Regions from separate parts of the Homo sapiens genome. Here region 1 is linked to region 2. Evidence: fine-mapped expression QTL. Tissue or cell type: whole blood. Region 2 holds a variant in brackets; the other region holds the start of a gene. All regions are shown on one strand. Distances are between the middles of the regions.

The links. PIP is the estimated chance that this variant, and not a neighbour inherited with it, causes the effect.
Region 1: it holds the start of UBASH3B, and the variant in region 2 is fine-mapped to the expression of UBASH3B in whole blood (INTERVAL, PIP 0.91).

The regions. Positions count from the first base shown.
Region 1 is chr11:122,653,319-122,658,318 of GRCh38, forward strand. It overlaps UBASH3B (ubiquitin associated and SH3 domain containing B), which reads left to right and starts at 2,404. Exons shown (of 14, transcript NM_032873.5): 1 at 2,404-2,892. The coding sequence starts at 2,732. RefSeq lists an enhancer at 2,309-2,810 and a silencer at 3,014-3,063.
Region 2 is chr11:122,714,991-122,720,254 of GRCh38, forward strand. All of the region lies in intron 1 of UBASH3B (ubiquitin associated and SH3 domain containing B), which reads left to right. Among named protein-coding and RNA genes, the nearest start is that of UBASH3B, 62 kb to the left of the region's middle. The variant T/C (reference allele first, on the strand shown) is at 2,886.

The DNA.
Region 1 (5,000 bases), 62 kb before region 2:
CAGGGGTTTGCACTGAGCTGAAGACAAGTGAGGAAGCCAAGCTGGGATTTCTGTAAAAGTGTCCCAGACAAAAACAGTTTGCATCTCAGGTGCCTAGTTTTTCATAGTGCTTTTTCCAGTCTACCTAAAACTATTTTTATATGCATCATTTCCTTTATCTTACAGTTTGCCTAAAGGCAGGGAGAAAGACAATTAATTCAATTTTTCTGGAGAAACAGAGATCCAGCAATTCTATGTCAAGGGGCATAGATGGAGTCAAAAAACTATCTTAAAGGCTGGTGTCCTTTTATCATCATAACAATGGTCGTTAACTAGTTGTTTGGCCAAATGTTAAGAGTTCAAATCTTGGCTCTGCCATTTACTAGCCATGTGACCTTGGACAAGATACTTGACCTCTGGCTCAGCACCTTCATTTGTAAAGTAGTTCCTAGTTCATAGTCTTGTCAAGGAATTGTTTGAGTCACATATGTAAGAAGCAAAGAACAACACCAGCATATAGTAAGTACTCAATAAATTTGAGTTATCATTTATGTAGCGCTTTATGGTTTACAAAGCGCTTTCACATACATTATTATCTCTTGACTAAGATCCAGATCATTTGACTTTCAGCCCAGGCATTTGGAAACAATTCAGAATACTGGATAAAATCCAGCATGTTTTACCGAACACATCCAAGGAGGCTAATACTAGGTATGGTGTTGCCAGCCCAGTCTTGTCTTTTTGCTCCATGTCCTGGAAGAGCATTCTGCAAGGTCTCCAGGATATCCCCTTTGCTCTGGAAGCAGCTACTACCCAGGAAGCATTAATTTTCCCTCATCCTTTGTACAGCAGGAGGCAGAATTAATACACATTGTTGCTTAAGCTCCAGCTGTCTTATCTCCCTGCTTCCAAACACCACTGGCTATTCTTTAGGAAACCAATTCCGGGCTCAGGGAGTTACACTGTATCATTTCCCCTGGTAAAACCTTCACAGGCCTTATAAAGCAACCTCAAAAAGCCACTCCATGGGTGCTGGTCACCATCCCTCCCCCATATTCCAACCAGGGACAGGCCCGGACTGACATTTCTGGAAAACCCAGTGTGTGCAAGGTTAGGTTACCACGGTCCATACCAATGAGGAAATTAGGCTGTAGAGAGAAGTAACTTGTCTAAGGCACCGCAGTGGATACGAGTGCTGTAGCTACGCACTTACCAGCTCTATGATCTTCCCCAACCTCTCTGAGCTGAGTTTTCTCATCTGTAAAACTGGGATAATGATTAAACACACTCCTAGGGTCAGTATAAAACTTCAGTGAGTTCATTCATTACGATTAGCACAATGACTGGCACATACAAGAGCCCAATAAATGTTAGGTTTTATTATTATTATTACCCAAAAAAGACTATCAGTTAGGGTGTACTCATTGCCTCTTTCATTATAGCAAGTGGGACCCTTGTCCCTGACTGAAGACAATGACTTTGTTTCCAAACGAAAGAGGGTTAGCATCCCCCAGCCAAATTCACCAGGTGGGGCATGGGGCATCAATATGGTTGTGGCTTCCACCATCTTTGCAGTGGGAGTAGTTTTGTCCAGCCTATGATACAATTCACTTATTATTGTGCAGTGGTGATTCGGTCCGTCTTTGAATCCTTTTATTGACAGGATATCCACTCCCTAATGAAATAAGCCCGTTCCCTTTTGAACACCTCTTATAATTAGGAAGTATGTTTTCTCTGTTCCTTCTTCCTCTACCCTCCTAGCCCTTCCTTCTTCTCCTCCTCCTTCCTCCTTTCTTTTTCCCTTCCCTCTTCTTTCTGCCCTGTCCCTCTTTTCTTGTCCCCTCCCAGGTCCTGCCACCTCTGAGAACCTGAGGTCCTTCTCCCCAACCCCTCTGCCCCACCGGGAAGGCACTATTCAGTCACTGACCATAACCTTGTAGAGCGCAGTAGGTCTTTAGTGCAGCCACTTGGCCGGCTGATTGGGAACTCAACTTCCGATGGTCCTAACAACCCTTTGGGTTTTGCAGGATCTTTGAGAAGCAAAACCTTTTACCTAGGCCTTACGGCTTGGCCTTCTGGTCCATTAGTATCATCCACCAGTTCACCCAATTTCCATTAATAACCGCATCTAGAATCACATGAAACTTGAGATGGGTTGATCTCCTGTCTTGAGGCCCAGCTGGGCGGGTATGCCAGCCAAGGAGAGGGCTGGGGCGCCGGGGGTGACTCTCGGGAGGTGAAGCACACAAGCAGCCCATAAGGTTGGGATCCTCCGTCTCCAAGTAGCGCGACTACAGCTCTTGCCCGCACGGAGCAGCCTCGGACAGCGCGGCCGCTTTAAGAGAGGGGCGGGGCCCGGGTACAGGCAAGTCAGGGCCAGCCCACAAGGCTCCTTTTCCTTTTTGATCCATTCAAAAATTACTCATTGCAAATTCCCGGACTGCTAGGCGAGGAGAGGGAAGGGGGCGGAGGAGACAGGGCTACTGCAGGCGCAGAGCTGGGGGCAGCCGGGGGCCCGAGTGGCTGAGGCTGGTCCCGCAGCGGCCGCTTGCCGGCGTTCTGGCTCCTGTGGCCTCACCAGGAAGCGTCAGAGTCCCGACACTGGGGAAGCTCGGAGCGCCGCCTCCGCTGCCGCCGCCTCCTGCCTGGCTCTGGGTCCCCGAGCCCCCTCCCCTGGCCCAGCCCGACTCCCTCCTCCTTCCCGAACCATCCGGCTCGGGCTCCTTCCCTGGCGATGGCTGGCCGCTGAGCCATGGCTCAGTACGGCCACCCCAGTCCGCTCGGCATGGCTGCGAGAGAGGAGCTGTACAGCAAAGTCACCCCCCGGAGGAACCGCCAACAGCGCCCCGGCACCATCAAGCATGGATCGGCGCTGGACGTGCTCCTCTCCATGGGGTTCCCCAGAGCCCGCGCGTAAGTGGCCGGGCTCGCAGCCCTCGGCGACCCCTCCCGCGCGCGCGGCCGGCCCTCGGCTTCGCTCCGGCTCGCCTCCCAGCGCCTGCGGGACAGGCAGCGCGCTCCCCGCTGCCCGAGACCTGTTGGGGGCGGGATGGGCGCGCTGGCAACCCGGGACTCGGCTCCGGGCGGGGGTGCGGGGGAAGACGCGGCGCGGGGGCGTTGGGCCAGGGCTCGCCGTGGGATGCCTAAAGCTGGGGGACGAGGGCGCGGGGTTCGAGTCCCGGGTATAGTGCTCAGCCTCCGCCCCAGCCGGGTGGAGCTCAGCGTTTCTCTCGCGCGCTCCCCTAGGTCTCCAGCGCCGAGCGCCTAGGGAGGCGGGGCCCTGCGGAGGACTCGGGCACCCTCTCCGTCTGGAATACTGGGCTGGTCTGGGATCCTCCGGTGTCTGGGAAAGGGCGGGAGACTGCGGGGCAGGGAGGCCGGCGCCCCCGTTGCAGCGGCTTCCAGCTCCGGATGTCGCTCTCGGGTTCGGTCTCCCCCTGGAGTAGGAGGAGCGGGAGCGTGGGTGTTCCTGCGTGTTCATTGATGGGGAGGATGGAATCAGAAGGAGAAGCGATCCCTCCAGGGGACCTGGGTTCTCGTCAGTGGTGACGGCAGCTCAGAAATCTGTGGGTGCCTGAGAGTAAGGAGGGGGAGCTGTTCTTCATCCTTCCTCTAGGAGAGTGGGGTAGGGGAGGGCAGGGAGAGCGCAGGTGGCTGCCCCTGGAGCCTGCTGGGGAGAGGCCTGTTTGCCAGCATAGGGTGGCGGCGGCCGGAGTCGTCTCAGGCCGGTCGGCTCAAGTCTCAGGGGCTGGAACTCTGCCTAAGAGGAAGCCAAGGCCCAGCGGCCAGGCCCTTCTCCCCTGGTTAATCCCTGCCGTGCAGATTTCTTAGGTGGGGACACAAGGCCTGGCGTCCGGACTGGGCGCAGCTTCTTTTCATCTTTGAATTACAGCACCTGAACAGGAGAGTTGGCCAAACTTAATCAGTGAGGGCCAAGTAAATGAAAGTCCTTTTTATTTTTTTCCCTTCTCACATTTTTTTTTCAGGTGATAACTTTATTTATGTATTTATTTTTCTGAGACGGAGTCTCGCTGTGTCGCCAGGCTAGAGTGCAGTGGCGCAATCTCTGTAACTTCCGCCTCCCAGGTTCAAGCGATTCTCCCACCTTAGCCTCCTGAGTAGCTGGGACCATAGACATGCGCCACCACACCGGGCTAATTTTTATATTTTTAGAAGAGATGGGGTTCTGCCATGTTGGCCAGGCTGGTCTCGAACTCCTGACCTCAGGTGATCCACCCACCTCGGTCTCCCAAAGTGCTGGGATTACAGGCAATAACTTTATGTCTCCCCTCCCTTATCTCTGGGCAAACCTTGTTTATTCTCTACTAACTTGGTTGTAATCTGTTAATCAAAGTAGACCCTTGAATTTGTTATTCTCCAGGCTGCTGGGACACGTTGGAGTGGCCTTAGAAGGCTGCAAAATGGACTGATGGTTTCTGCCTTCCACTGACGTCCCAATACGACTTCCTAATACTAGGGCTCCAGTTCCTGATACCAGAATTACAGGGAGAAAATGTGGGTTCTGCAGGGGTGTGTCAGGTGTGGACGCTTCAGGTGAAGTCGTCGGTGTGGATGATCAATGTGCACAGCTCTCCTTAAAAACTGGAGGTGGGGCTGGGTGTAACCCCAGCAGTTTGGGAGGCTGAGGCAGCCGGATCACTTGAGATCAGAAGTTTGAGACCAGCCTGGCCAACATGGTGAAACCCTGTCTTTACTAAAAATACAAAAATTAGCTGGGTGGGGTGGTGCATGCCTGTAATCCCAGCTACTTGGGAGGCTGAGATAAGAGAATCGCTTGAGCCCAGTAGGTGGAGGTTGTAGTGAGCCAAGATCGCACCACTGCACTCTAGCCTGGGTTACAGAGCGAGACTTCATCTCAAGAAAAAAAAAAAAAAAAAGCTGGAGGTGGGAGTGGGGAAGTCAGCTGGGGAATGCTGCAGAATTAGCATAGTCTCAGGCTACTGCCTTTTTTGAAATAAGGCCAGCATTAAAAACCTAAATTGCTTAATTAAGGGAAGAAA
Region 2 (5,264 bases):
GCTGGAGTGCAGTGGCGTGATCTCGGCTCACTGCAAGCTCCGCCTCCCGGGTTCACGCCATTCTCCTGCCTCAGCCTCCCGCGTAGCTGGGACTACAGGCGCCCACTACCACACCCGGCTAATTTTTTGTATTTTTAGTAGAGACGGGGTTTCACCGTGTTAGCCAGGATGGTCTCGATCTCCTGACCTCGTGATCCGCCCGCCTCGGCCTCCCAAAGTGCTGGGATTACAGGCATGAGCCACTGCGCCCAGCCGAGATAAATGTTAAATGCTGACACAGTGCTTAGCATTTAAATAACACTTAAGATGTCATGTCTTATTATTGATTGGCGGTTGAGGTGGGACTTCATGGTCTGGACAGACCTTGCATTGCTGCCATCAAAAGTTGCCTCCTTCAAAACAGTTGTAGCGCTGCTGTCAGTGTCTGTTAAGAATGAGGTGGTGCATATGCTACGGCAGAGACAATCCAGAAAGCTTCTGAATCAATAGAACCTCTGAGGCTGTTGTAGCTTTGGCATAGCTATCATCTTTTAGGGCCATTTACCCAATGTGTCACCAAAGAGACACAGCAGAAACTGCTGGAGAAACACGGATCCGAAAGCCCAGTAATGACGGCTCCTCTCCTCTTTCTATTCTCTCCACCCATCTGTTCCCCTACTTCCTTCAAAGCACACATAGACACACACCCCTTTTGTCTCTCTCAAAACAGGGGATAATTAAAAAACCAAAATCCAAACATCCAGCAGAAGTTTATGCTTGAGTCTCAGAACACAACATATGGCTTCCCAGCCATTGCCAGGTTCTGTAACCACAAAGAGAGAGGTCTCCAGCCTCCACCGTGGTCCCCTGGCTTTGCCACTATTTGCTGACAGAGGCAGCACTCCTCCGCCAAGGACTAGAGGGTCATGGTGTTCAACCCCTTGAATTGTAGTCAAAATTACATTTTCCTGTCATTTGAAAATGCTCCAGAAACAGAGGAGATTCAAGTGCTTCCTTTCTTTGTCCCTGTTTCAGCTTTCTCTTTCCAGTATTGGATTAGAGGCAGCAGGGACTGTGGAGAGAGGACGAGGAGGTGGAATTTCCTGATCGTGATGCAGTGTCCCTCTGTGGGGGCAGAAAAACTGCACGGTAGTAGCAGCAAGCTGGGGCTGGTGAGAACTGCGAGAGGAAGGGGGATCTCAGCTGCAGAGGAGAGCTCTGAGACAGGGTCTCACTCTGTTGCCCAGACTGGAGTGCAGTGGCTCAATCCATGACTCACTGCGGCCCCAGCCTCCTGAGCTCATGTGGTCCTTCTGCCTCAACCTCCCAGCTTGCTGGGACTACAGGCATGTAGCACAATGCCCAGCTAATTTTTTTGTATTTTTAGTAGAGACGGTGTTTTGCCATGTTGCCCAGGCTGGGTTATTTTTTATTTCTATTGCCCAAGTCACATGGAGGAATTGTGTCAGATTGTAGTAAGAAGAGGATGATTCTACCTTATCCTCCCTCCACAAAACACACACATATGCCGTGAGTTAGCTTTTCATCTCTGCCCCTCTAATATCCCTTGTGTGGCCTCTTGCATGGGGAATCGCTGTCCACCCAGAGACTTGGGACATCAGGATGTCCTTTCACCTCCTGAGGCAAGGTTGCCTGTGGGAGACCTTGCTCAGAGCTTTCAGTCTGCCCCGCTCTGTAAGGAGGTTTGGGTTGCAGACATGTCCTTTCTCCACCTGAAGGCAGGTAATGCAACCACAATGTCACCCAGTTCTGTAAAATTCCTGTCTAAGGAGTCCAGTTCAGTTTTCTGAATCTTGAACAGCAGACCAGGCTAAAGAGGGGAGCCCCAGAAAGCTTTGCTGGAAGGAAGAGAAAGACAAAAGCCTTGCCTTTTCTCTCGGTAGAAGCTGTCGGTCATGGCTCTTCTAGCCTCACAATTTGGAGATGTTAGATGGAATCAGGATGATTATAGCCTCATCTCCCCTTCTCCCGTCCTGTCTAAGTAGTCACACAGATTGATGCCTTAATTTCCCATAGCACAGCCGAGGCCAAGGTGTAACAAACTGAACAAGACTTTACTAGCAGCTCAGGATCAGGACTATGCTTAGGACCAGCCCATTCTCAGGGGGTTCCCTCAAAGCTACCACTGTATGACAGAGATCCCTGTCCTCTCGCCCCCAGAAAAGTCCTCAAGTTTTGCCAGACTCCTGGGAGTACTAGCATAAGAAAGCAAGGCCCAGAGACATGGAGATTCTCTCTTCTTCTCCCACCTAAGGCCTTCCTTCCAAATCCTCATTGCCTGTCCTAAGAACCACCACTTCCTGGACTAACCGATAGCGGAAGGGCCAGGTTCCCTCTCTGCCCCTGAGGAAGTGATGCTACCCCACAGTCCGAGGAGATAATCACATCAGAATATAGCAGACCTGCAGTAGTGTGAGAGATTTCCTGGCAGTAAGAAGGGGTAGGGAGGAGGATGTCCTTGTCACACCCAGGCTGCCTGGATCCTGTGGCCTCCACCACATGCATTAGGCGTGGCTCTGGCCACAGATCAGTAGAGGGAGAAGCACTGCACACAGCACGGATGCTTGTAAATGTCAATTGCCCTCAGTGGCTATAATTAGTTTCTCTGGTACCCTGTGTTCAGCAAAGTGGGGAAACAGCCCCTTAGAAAGTGTGTATTTTCCACCGCTGTACCTCGTGATATCACCACAGGTGCCTTCTGGCTGACCCCAAGTTTCTCGTTGTTCTCCAGGAACTGCTGTGACTGTTGGTGGCAGTTCTATAACTCTGAGAAGTCACAGGGGGCCCGGTCAACCACCAGCAAATGACTTCCTGTTCCCTTCCCCTACTGTCCCCCACCCCCCATGACACTAGGCCAGTCCTTGCCTGGTGAGAATAAATTCAAC[T/C]GTACGTGGATTTCTCACCCAAGTTTCTTTCTTTCTTTTTTTTTTTTTCGGACAAGTCTCACTCTGTCACCAGTCTCACTCTGTCACCCAGACTGGAGTGCAGTGGCGCCATCTTGGCTCACCGTAACCTTCGCCTCCTGGGTTCAAGAAATTTTCCTGCCTTAGTCTCCCAAGTAGCTGGGATTACAGGCACCCACTACCAAGTCTGGCTAATTTTTGTATTTTTAGTAGTAGAGACGGGGTTTCACCATGTTGGCCAGGCAGGCCTCGAGCTCCTAACCTCAAGTGATCCTCCCGCCTTGGCCTCCCAAAGCGCTGGGATTATAGGTGTGAGCCACCATGCCCGGCCTCACCCAAGTTTTAAACACGTCCAAGAAAGTGGATGCATACCTACCTAGTCTAATGTTTAAAATACATTTCGGATGAAGCATTTCTTGTTCTAAAACTACTTAACATAGAGCCCTGGCGCCTCAGATTCCTTGCAAGTCACTAAGTCAGTGCATGGCATTGGGTACTAGTGTTATATTATTGGGCAGACTTGTGAAAGGATGTGGAGTCTCAGACTCCAGGTTTGAATCTGCCATCTCCAGCCGTGTGACCTTGGGCAAGTTATTGAAGCTTTGAACACTGGCTTCTTGATCCATCAAATGGGATATTTAGGGGGGAAATGGGATAGTAGGGATTGTGTGAGGATTAAGTATGATGACATATGTAAAAGCAAATTAACACTGCACCCAGCAGGTCCTCAATTATAGTACTTTTTATATTCATAGTATGGAATAAAGAAAAGTCTTTTTGATTGGAGCCCCAAAAAAGGGATATTAGAGGGTCAGAAATGAAAAGCTAACTCATAGCGCATGTGTGTGTTTTGTGGCGGGAGGGATAAGGTAGAATCATCCTCTTCTTACTCCAATCTGACACAATTCCTCCACGTGACTTGGGCAACAGAAATAAAGAATAACCCAGCCTGGGCAACATGGTGAAACACCGTCTCACCTAAAAATACAAAAAATTAGCTGGGCATTTTGCTACATGCCTGTAGTCCCAGAAACCTGGGAGGTTGAGGCAGGAGGACCACCAGAGCTCAGGAGGCTGGGGCTGCAGTGAGCCATGATTGATCCACTGCACTCCAGCCTGGGCGACAGATTGAGACCGTCTCTCAAAAATAAATAAAAAACACTTACTGAGTATTACCATGTGATAGCTGCTGTTCGAACAATCTAAGCATGATTACGTTAGATTGGTGATGGGTATTCTTACACTGCCAATTTACAGATGGATTAACTAACACGCTGAGGTTAAAAGTAACTTGTCTAAGACCACGCGGCTAATAATTGGGAGTGCCCGGAAGTCAATTCCCTTCTCTAAGCTTCAATTTCCTCATCAGATGATTGGTTTAGATACCCATGTCCACCAGTGCTCAAAATTTTACATCTGTGCTAAATTTAACCAGGAAATTTGGGAGTTATGTTAGTGATGTTTGCAATGGAAAAGAAATGGTTTAGGAAACTTAACATGGCTTGAAACTCTTTAAAAGTCTTTCTTACCATTTTTCTTGTCCCTTTCTTTCATTACTCTCTCCTTGTCTTTTCCCCTTCGTCCTCCTTAAAATAAGTCTCTGAGAGGGAAAAACCTGTGGTTCACATCATGAGTTCATCAGAACCAGGCATCTATGTATCCCATCACATAGGTCAAGGAGCCTCCCAGCAAAGGTAGTAATAATCAGCCTTAGTAGCTGGAAAGATCATTTCATCTGTTTCTCTTCTTGCAAAACCTAAAGTGTTAAATCAGATTCTTGAACAGTAACACTTCCCAAACAAGTTGTCTCTACTGGCTGTTTCCACTTCCTATCCTCCTCTTTTCTCTTAAACTTATTTCAATCAGGCTTCTGTCACACTGCCCCCCAAAGCTGCTGTCATCAAGGTCACTAATGGCCACAGTAGTGCCATATATTGTGAGCAATTCCATCCTCCATCAGCAGCATTGGATGCAGGCGATCAGTCCTCTCTCGATGCTTCCTTAAAGACCCTTGGCTTCTAGGAGTTTCTTCTCTCTTAGTCCTCCTACTGCAGTGCCTGCTTCTGCTCCAACTCCTTGGCTGGCTTCCTCATCTCCTCACCTGTAAATATTGGAGAGCCCTCAGCTGAAAACCATGGACCCCTTCTCTCCTTTGTCTAAACTCACCCCCATAGTAGTCTCCAAACTCCTGGCTTTATGTACTATCCATATGCTGACAACTCCTGCACTTACATCCCCCACCCAGTCCTCTCTCCCATTTTCCAGACTCCGTACTCAGCATCTCCTATGGATGTCAAATAGGCATCTCAAACATGGGTCCTCCCACAGTCTTGTCATCTCCAAGCAGGATAACTCTTTCTT